Linked DNA regions of Homo sapiens: region 2 is linked to region 1. The links come from fine-mapping of genetic effects on gene expression. A gene starts in region 1. The other region holds a variant in brackets. All regions are shown on one strand. Distances are from middle to middle.

Region 1 (5,385 bases):
AGATGTGTGCATATTAATTGGCTTTGGGCATTTTGTTACCTAGGAGGAGTAACACATATGATAGCTAAAATTAGAAGGCAGGCAAAAAAAAAAAAAAGTGAAAATACAAAGCTTGGTATTCCAATGTAGGTGGGGTGTTATAGCAAGAGACCCTGCCAGGCAGGAGTCCTTAATCACTGTGAGACATGAGTGGCAAAAAGTGCTTGAGGCATGTTACTGAAAGACAAAGCTATCTCACACTTACGTCTAGATTTGTGGGTGGAAGGGTGAGAGTTGGAGCTATTCCCCATTCACACTGCCACACATCTTTGTAGCATGCTTTTCATTACATGGATTTGAATACATCAGTGATCAGGGTGATGAGTGAGGGGGCGATGGAGGAAGCCAGAAGGAAAAACTGGAAGGCTTTTGGCTTTAATCTGCTTTGCTTGTTTAAGCTAAGGAAAAAAGAGCTTCTTAGCCTTTTTAAAAAAATAAACTATCACAATAATGAAAATATTAATAACCAAAATAAGAGCTACAGGTTATGCAGAGCTTGTTAGGCAGTAGGCACTATGTTAAGTGCTTTATGTACATCATCTCACTTAATGTCCCTGTGTTTTCCCTACTGTCCCCAAACAGTAAAAATCTCTTCCAGAACTGCTCATTCACCATCTCCTAGCAGACACACCATAAAGAGATTTCACTTTATTTGCAATTCTGCATTTAAAAATTCTCCTTCACCCTTCACCTTGTTGGAGCTACTTTCTGCTTTGAGATGGCGAACAGGTCCATCTGCTTAGAGATGGTCCCTAAGCATTGAGGGGAGTGGTATCCCTTTCCCTCTCACCCAAGGCCAGGCTCAGATAGAGTGGGCTTCTTGGCCAGGCAACCCTGGATACTTATCATTGTAGGAGGAAGTGCCTTAGAATTGTCTCCTATTGAGTGAACTGTAAACCCCAGCCCCTCTTAGTTCATGAATTCAAAGCCGTCACTCACCTTGTGCTTACGCACCAGGGCAAAGAGAATGGCTATCTTGCCTCAAGGAAGCAATTGGCCCTACCAATACTAACACCTTGCAATTCTAGTGAACACTGTTTACTGTTCTGAGGGGAACGTGACAACAAGGCAGATCTATCTTGGATGCCTTCCAAGAAGCCGAGCACCAAAGGGAAGTCCTGATATAAACAGGCATGGAAGGAGGAGCTCCAAATACCCTACATGGTTCACTATAGAGGCTTTGCTGCTCTTCAGGAGAACCTGATCTCCCCTACCTGGTGGATGGAGACTTACTCTCACTTGTCCTTTAAGCAAAGAGATGCTGCAATTCTACTTCTTTCAAGGATCTACTGAGAAAATAAACCTGCCACTACACCCAGGGCACTTTCTCTTTTTAAGAACTTTCCTTTTTTTCTCTCCTTCCTCTAAGTCTGTTCTCCTAAACTTTTGTTGGTGGTATTTAGACATGCTGTTTTTTTCTCCTCTGGGTGTGCTCTAGGATTTGATCTAATTGTCCTGCTGTTCGAGTGTCACTTGGCATTATTATTGGGAAGATGAATGGTATGTGGGTCAGAGTTCAGCAAGAAGGCATCTGCTCGCTTCCACTGTAAAGTGGAAATGCTTAGAGGTGATCTTTAATGAAAGCTTGGAAAAGATTTGCACAAGGCAGGCTGTCCTCTATTCCTCCAAAGCAGAGGGGACCAAAGGTTATCCTTTTCTGGAGGGACAGAAAATGAATAAAAAGGAGGTAGAAATCTCTTTACAGGGAGTTTCCTGCTTGGGATGTCTTTTCTTCTGTAGGAAAGAAAATGGGGTGTGGTGTGTGGGGAGACAGAACGATTAAACAGGGAAGAGATTGAAAATAGAAGCTCTTGAATGGATCCTAACCATTCTGTTTTGCTCACAGAACAATCTGATCCAAGAAGTTTCCACTCTACTTGCAACGACTCTCACCTGCCATCTCCCCTGGCCTCAGGTTACTGTGCCATAGCAGGCTCAGGTTCTCTTACTGGACTCTCTTCGAGTTGACAGTTCTCCCACTTTACCAAATAGCCAGAGGCCTCACAAAGACCTAGAATTGCGTTGGCATTCTAGGCAAGGGGACAATGAACCCATTGTTCTTTTTTTTTTTTTTTTTTGCCTTCTTAAATAGGGCAAATATCTCTTCCATTTACCCCTATCATCAAAGGAGGCTTAGTATGGGGTCCTCAGAGACTCACCTTCCTTCCACTCCTCCTTTGTTGTTTGGAAGAGTTATCGCTAGCCCCCTTCTCGCCCTCGCCCCATTAAAGCTGTTGTGGGACCCGACTGGACGTTGCCTTTTCTTGCTCTTAAAGGAGTGGAAGTTGGGAGGGGAAGAAAGAAGCACACACCAGGAAACTCATTTTAGTTCGGGGCGACCTGCAGCCTGTGGTTCCTCCTGGACCTCTGGGGAGACGCATCTCGGTTGCCCGCAGGGTAGAAAGCAAGAGAATGGCCCACAGGAACGCCCGCGCCAGCGCTAAAACCACACCGGGAGAGGACAGCCCCACGTTACCGAGGACTCGAGGCAGAAGCGGTCTCCAAGGATGGGTGGGGATCCCACCACTGGCTTCCAGCTCTGCATGCGCCGCGGAGTCCCCGCGCAGGGCGCACCTTTGCGGCGGGGTTTCCCCGCTGCCTTCTGGGAACCCCGCGGAGCGACTGCCGCTGGACGCAATCTGGCTGGCTTGCCTCTACCCCGAGCTCACTCTCTCTGCTCTGTCTGGGCTCTGGAGCCAGAGCTGAGTCTCTCTTGAGCATGCGCAGCCCGGCACCCTCCCCGCCTCTCCCCTCCTCCGCCCCCTCCGCGCCAGCCTTTTGCTCTTTCCTTTCATTAAACAAACAGGAGATCCTGAAACCTGGACCCTGTGCAAGCTGCAGCGCCAGGAGGAGGCAGCGGAGGAAGCAGAGCGCGGGATGGGCGCCCAGCGGCATCTGTGATCCCGCGCACCTCCGCCCCACGGGCGCGCGCACAAACACGGACACACACATACACACACTCGCGCACACACTCGCACAAACACACACTCGTACACGCCCGCGCCGCTCGCTCGCCGGCTTGCTCTCCCACGCAAGCGGAATGCAGCAGCGCCTGGAGAGCGTGTCTCGGACCGCCGCCTGAATGTACCTCGCTCCCGGGAGCCGGACGGCCCAGTAGGGCGCACTGGAGGACGCTCCGCTGCGGGAGGTGAGTGCGGCGCCCGCAGCCGGGCCGCTGGGGAAGTCTCTGCACCGGGGCAGTAGGGCAGCGCGGGGCAAGCTCCTGGCCGGACCCGGCGGCGCAGGTGTCCCATGCCTTGCTTGTGGGTGTCGAGGTGCAGATGAAGGCGGCGCTGGGGCTGTGCAGAGGAGAGGACGAACCCAGGGAGGGTCGCCTCCTGCGAGGTGTCAGATTGACCCAGCAGAAAGCTACCACCTCCCTGCTCATAAACTTTCCTTCCATGTCATCTGGGAAACGTGGAGACAAAGGGGGCGTGGAGGCTCCCTCCGTCCCGTTCCACCCTCCTGACTGCATTCCGGGCTGCAACGCGAGCCTGCACGCGTTGGGTGGGTGTGCAGGCGGAGGCGCCCTGCAGGTAGCTGATGCCAAGTCCTCCCACCCGGGCGGGGGTTGAGATTTCTCACCCCAAGCTGTAAGGGTTGCCATTGATTTTCCCTCAGGCATGGGCACCTGTCATCCTTCCCTTCCACCCCTCTGCGTCCTAGGCGCATAGTGGGGTGTGTGTGTCACCTGGAAAATTGGAGGGGCGGCCTTCGGCTTTCTCATCGAGCTCCGGTGCCAAAGGCGCCGGGGTGAGGCTCGGGTCAGTGCGGGGATAAATGATGAGTTACTGACAGGCTTGCCATAATCACCTCCTAGAACGGAGGACGCTAGGATCTCTCCTCCTCAGGGAAGGTGCTGTCTTCACGCACACCATCGCGGCAGCGCTGGGAGCTGAACAGGGGCTGCTGCTGCGGCGGCGGCAGTGGGAAGACGGGGCTTTATCCTCTCCCAACCCATTTCCCAAGGGTTTTATGACACGCACGTGTGGAATATGTGGAGGATTCTGGATTATTATTTTTCTTTGTGGGGATGTCGGGTTTTTTTCCTTTCAACCTCTTTCCTGGGAGAGATTCTGTGGTGTCTGCTATCTAGTTGGTGGACAGGCACGGTTCTGAATATCTCTTCGGCCCGACGGAAAAGGTCCTGAGAAAAGGATTTCCTAAAATCCTTTCTACTACTGGGGCGGGATCTCAGAGTGCAGTGCACCCGCTGCACCCGGGAAAAGCGTCAAATCGAATGGCCTTTTGAAACAGCAGAGACTGGGTCAGCCTGTGAGGAGTCCAGGACTGGGACAAAGGGAGATAGAAGAGGGACAAATAATGGTCACTTAGGAGAGGTGTGACTAGAGGTTAATGAAGGCAGGAAGAGGTTGACTGGAGGGGACGTACACTACAGCCTTCACTGAATTTCTATGCCCCTTCTGCTTGTATGGTTGGCAGCTCCTATTCTTCTGGTGGGACGCTAGTTTTGAGGTGTCTAGAATGTCACATCTGGAGCGTAAAAGACTTCACTATTTCTGGGATAACATTTAGCATACTTACAAATTAGTTGTTTAGGTCTAGAAAGTGCCTCGTGTGAAAGTTTCTCCATCTTGACGTGTTGGTTGTACCTGAAAGGCGGGTTGGGCAGACAGGTACATTTTTGGCTCTTGTGCACGTCAGGAGCCTTGTATTTTTAGGAAAAGTGTATGGGGAATCTGGAAGCCAAGCTGATGCTGAAAGAAGTAAACTCCGGAAGCTCAGATCCAGTACTTATGCCTGCTGCTCCTCACGGGTGGGGGTGAGGGCTTCTCTTCACTTTGAGATGACAGGTTGGGGAGTCTCTCTGCTGCTTGGGATGGGGACCTTTTTATCTTTAACATTTTGTGACTTCTTTGAAGTGGGAGAAAGCATGATATTTGTGAGATTAATTGAGAAATGACTTATGAAAGTGATCTTCACTCATAAGTAAGCATAGCCAAAGGTGAAAAGCTTTTTTAAGAAAGGAAAAAAAGAAGCAGGGGGTGGGGGGGAATTGGGAAAGGGATGCTTATTATTAAAATAGTTTCGCTTTTATGATTTTAAAGGTATTCAGTAAGATAGAAATCTGAGTGTTTTATTTTCAAATAACTAGGGAAGTAAAGACCTTTCCAGGAATATTTTCAAGTGAAATTGGCATAGAGGGGATTTAACTATAATTGTCAGCATATGTCCTTTTTATCCCATGGTGAACACTCTCATCATTTTCTTTGAAAACCTTGGCAAGAAAAGATCAAGAATATTTTTTGCTTTCACTAGAGCTCTTTATTTGCTTTGTTACTATATATTTCCTCTTCCTTCATCTGCAAGATCAGTTTATTTTGA
Region 2 (5,385 bases), 160 kb after region 1:
TAGGTAGTATATATATAGTGTGCATGTGTGTATATATATATATACACACACATATATATACACACATACTTATATACACATATATATAGTGTGTATGTGTATATATATATACACACACATACATACATAAACCAAATTTTGTTTATCCATTCATTGATAATTGACACCTAGGTAGTATATATATAGTATAGTGTTACTATACTATTTGGTGAACATATATATGTAGTATTGTAATGGAATACTATTTAGCCTTAAAAAGGGGGAAATAACATGGATGAACCTGGAGCACATCATGCTAAGTAAAATAAGCTAGGAACAGAAAGACAAATACCGTATGATTTCACTTACATGTGGAATCTAAAAAAGTTGAAATCATAGAAATAGTGAGTAGAATGATGGTTACCAGTGGCTGGAAGAGGGGGATGGATGGAGAAAGGGAAGATGTTGATCAAAGGGTGTAAAGTTTCAGATAGACAGGAGGCATAAGCTTTAATGATCTGTTGTGCAGAATGGTGATTATAATGATATATATTTCAAAATTCCTATAAAATTAGATTTTAAATGTTTTGGTAGTAAAAATAAGTACCTGAGGTGATACATTTGTTAATTATGCTGATTTAATCATTTCATATTATAAAAATCAAAGCACCACATTATACCTCATAAATATATATAACTATTATTTGTCAATTAAAGAAAAGTGGGAGACAGCTAATGGGAACAGGGCTTGCTTTTGGGGTGAAAAAATATTTTGGAACTTGGTGGTTGTTGCATAATACTGTGAAGGTACTCAATGTCACTGAATTGTATTCTTTAAGATGGTTAACTTTGTATTGTGTGAATTTCACCTCAATCAATGAAAAAGATGGAAAAAATAAAATTAAAACGTAAGCAAAAGACTGGAAGAAAATATTGAAAATATGTATCTGATAAAGATTTGTATATAGACTGTACAAAAAACCTTTACACCTTGAAAATAATAAGACGAACAACCCAACCACAAAAGGTATTTGAATAGACACTTCACAAAAGAATATATAAAAATGGCTAATAAGCACATGGAAAGATGCTCAACATAATTTTTTATTAGCAAAATGAAAATTAAAACCACAATGAGATATCATTTCACGCCCAGTAGAATAGCTATAATAAAAAAGATAAACAATAAAAATGTCAATGACAGTGTGGAGAAATGGGAACTCTCATACATTGCTGGTGGGAATGTAAAATGATATAGCTACTTTGGAAAACGTTTTAGTAGTGCTGTTAAAAAATTAAACATAATTTAACGTATGACCCAGCAACTCTCTTAGGTGTCTAATATCCATGAGAAATGAAAATATAAATCCACACAAAGAATTGCACACAGATGTTATTAGCATGGTTTTCCATAATATTGAATACAACCAAATACTGGATATAGCCAAAAATTCAAAACAATCTAAATGTCTACCAACTGGTAAAAGTGCAATAGCCATACAATGGAATATTATTCGGCAGTTAAAAGGAAAAAAATTACTGAATGTGCAACAACATGAATGAATCTCAAAAATATGCTACGTGAAGAAATGCAGAAATAAGAGGTCGTGTATTATATTATTCTATTCATTTAAAATATCCAGAAAAGGCAAATCTGTAGAGTCAGAAAGCAGATTACCTGGCTTTGGGATATGGTGAAGGAGTTGATGGTGGGAATTAACAGTAAATAGACATGATAATTCTTTTAGGGGTGATTAAAAAGTTCTAAAACTATCTTATGGGAAAGTTGCACAATTTGGTAAATTTATTTAAAATATTGAATTGTACACTTAAAATGAGTGAATTGGTATATATAAAATATACCTCACTGTAGTTACTCCCGTCTCTTTGTGTGTGTGTGTGTGTGTGTGTGTGTGTGTGTGTAGCCATATACATATAAAAAGCTTGGTTGCATTTTGGACCAGAAAAATGAAAATAGAGGGGAATTTTGTATCCTAAAGCTTGTCTTATATTCTCCACTTTATTGTTATTCTTTATTAATTACATGGAGAAGCCATCTAAAACACTAGGTGTTTGATGCCTTTGCTTTTTCTCGTGCCTCTGCCTTCTTGAACATGATTAATATTTAATTTTCTTTTCAGATATACAACACTGTATTTGGCTGATGCTAACAGGAAAGTTCATTTATATCATAAATACTAAGTAAATTCTAAGATATTTGGGTTAAGTAAGGGCAAAATTAAAATGGTTGTCCATTTTAAAATGATGGTTATCCAATCAATTCAATGTGTTTTCTACATATAGATTCCTTTCTTATTGTAGAAAATAACATCCTAAAATATAATGGTGAAATAACACATGTAGTATGGGTATGATTTTATAACAGAAAATATCCAATTTTAATTGAAAAAAATTAAGTTGCCTAAAACTTAAATACTGTGGTTGGTATGGATTTATAAAGCACATAATATTAAATTTGATCAGAGAAACTTTTAATTGACAAGTGAGGAGTTGATATCTCAAAAGGGAAGGATATGTATTTTAAAGTTTCATTCTGGAAAAGGGCAGAAAGAAACTTAGGAAGGATAGAAATGAAGACATTAAAATTAATGTCTGACCTTTTAAAAAGTACAGCTGGCCATTCAAATAGACTGGTACTTCCTATGTTACCTTTCATACTGTAATCAAAATCTACAAGAACTGTTGGTAGGGATGACAGAGAAACAGAACAAATGAAAAATAATGACTTTAAGAGCAGATATCTGAAATGTGTAGTATTGCTTTGGCTAGAGAATAAAAAATGTACTGGATTTTTAAAACTCTGGACTGGAAATTTCATTAAAGCTTAAAATCTTTACTTCATTGTATTAAGAAGAATCAAAACTAACTAATCTCCTAATACAATTATATTTTCAGTTCAAGGCAGGGAAGATGTGTTCTAATAAAATATTTAATGACAATCTGCTATTGCCCAGCTACTCCATTCTTGTAAGCTAAGTGAATGTCTTATAAGTTAAATGAAATGTGTTATGCCTTTACTGTTTTATGTTTGGGTCACACACAGGGCTGAGGGGAACCAGTGAAACAGATCGGTGACATATTAACCTGAA[G/C]TTGTTCATGGCTGTGTATTCAAGAGAGCAAGGACAAATAATGGTCAAGGAAGGAAGTCAGGGATTGGTGGCTCTGTACTAAGTGTCAGCTTCAAAGGGAGAGACCAGAGCATAAACAGACAATTCTCTAGGTTGCAAATTGGGAGGATTAGGAACAAGTAAGAGAGATCCATGCAGGATGGACAAGAAAAAAAAGTTTTATACCAAAAATTGTATTTCATGGCATTAGGGCAGTCTACTGGGGTAAGGCACTATGCAGTACTAGGCAATTAGAATTCTATTCACTAGCTATGTGCACAAGCGGCTCCTGACCTGGTCATTTTGGCTGTAAAACTATTCATGGCAAGTATATATTATTTGCTTTTTATTGGAATGATTATTAGTCTGACTTGACTGTGTTGTAGATCACTGTATTGCTTTTGCACACAGCCTGCTTATCTAGAAAGCTGATATCTAGTAGCTGATATTTTTATGTAAGTACCTAAGGGACTTCTCAATATATGGTTCTTATACTATGCAACCTATTTCTATTTCAGCCTGGACAGTTTTTGACGGTGCAGTCTTGCTATATGGTGTGAGAAATGGCTGTAGGAAACAACACTCAACGAAGTTATTCCATCATCCCGTGTTTTATATTTGTTGAGGTATGTGTATTTTTTAACCTTTATGGACAAATTGAAATAAAAGTAACAGTTTTTATTCTGATAACTTAGATTATTTTATAAAATTAATTTTATGATTGGTAAGTCAATTTTGATAGCACAAATATTGGTAAAGATTAATAAACTATGCAAAGTGTTTCTTAAATAGGAAGTCATAGAGTAAGAATTTTTTAAACTTCACCTTTGGATATATAATATATCCAAATTAATATATCCAAGAAATATAATAAAATGAATATTGTGTTTTATTATATTTCTTCTATTTTCGACAATGATGTGAATGTTAACTATGAAAGAGAATGAAGCATTTTAATTAATTTTTTTATTAAAAAATCAATATCCTGTTTCAGGAAGTCAATAATCCATGCATTTTACAGATGATATTAGTTCATGGTCTTTTGCCTTGGAACCCAAATAAAGAAAAATAATCTTAGAGTTTACTATCTCCTCTGGACATTTTAGTAGAGTATTGGGAGCTTGTGCAATGTATGATTTCTTTTGTCCTGAATTACTTTGTTCAGTTGCTCCAACTTTGTACTAGCAGTTTTTCCAGCACCTTTTTGGTTAAATTTCCTGAACTCCTTTTGTACTCTACCTCTGTTTCTATGTTTGCTATAGAGGAGACAAAGACATGAATTTTTTAGGAAATTCGGAAAAAAACTGCTTTCTAGGTTATCTCAAAATAAGATGTTGATTTGCCAGAGATGTTATTGTATCTGCCTTATCAAGAAAATAGGGCGTCTAGTGGATCGGTTTTTTTTTAGCCTAAAGATCAGACCTAAAATATGACAGTGTAAAGAGCTGAAAAGTAAGTATCCTGAACTTCTGTCTGGGTAACTGAAGGATAGTCTCCACATCCCAGGGGTGAGCTGTAGCATATTCTTTCTTACGGCATCTTTTAGGCTGACTGTGGGAGAAATGTGTGTTGATCTACTTTATTATCCATATAAAAACAAAGTTGGGTTAAACTACTACTCATATTAGCAAAAATGTACTTTCAGTACATCTGTTGTTTATACAAATCCTGTGAAACACTTAGACAAGAACTTTTATGTTCTCCAACTTGAAATAACTTTACCTGCCTATATAGTCAGATAATTTTGAGCATTCTGATTTTTGATCAGATATATGGGTGTTTGGCTGATCATTGAGTTTCACCTTATAGACATTGCTTGGTACTTTTAGATGAACAAATATTTCATAACTTATTTTCTGGTGATATTTGATAATCTGTTCATATTGCAGAACCAGGTAAAGATAGGAGAGAAGGTTGGAACAGAGATGTTAATATAAGCGAAGTTACATATAGACTCAATTTAAGCTAAATATCTGAATGGGTAAACAAAGAACTCATCATTCAACAAGAAACACATATTCTTAATATTTTGCATTTAACTTGCTATACGATGCCAAAATAACTCCATTCAGACAATAGTGATAATTATACATATTGTGGGTTCTGGTTACGATTCTTCTTATTAATATTGTGGTGAAGGGAAAAAATCATTTTTCCTGCTGCTTATGCGAAAAAGTTAGAAGGTAAAATAACAGTACCTTTTTCAGTGTTTGCTTTCTCTTTTGTTATATGAAAAATAATTTTTTAAGTAGGCTGCGGGAAGTTAGGGAATAAGTCA

The links. PIP is the estimated chance that this variant, and not a neighbour inherited with it, causes the effect.
Region 2: its variant is the best candidate, but not a certain one, in a credible set for the expression of PLPPR1 in lung (TOPMed, PIP 0.63).

Annotation. Positions count from the first base shown.
Region 1 is chr9:101,025,916-101,031,300 of GRCh38, forward strand. PLPPR1 (phospholipid phosphatase related 1) reads left to right here and starts at 2,812. Exons shown (of 8, transcript NM_207299.2): 1 at 2,812-3,187.
Region 2 is chr9:101,181,825-101,187,209 of GRCh38, forward strand. It overlaps PLPPR1 (phospholipid phosphatase related 1), which reads left to right. Exons shown (of 8, transcript NM_207299.2): 2 at 3,626-3,733. The coding sequence starts at 3,671. Among named protein-coding and RNA genes, the nearest start is that of PLPPR1, 160 kb to the left of the region's middle. The variant G/C (reference allele first, on the strand shown) is at 3,090.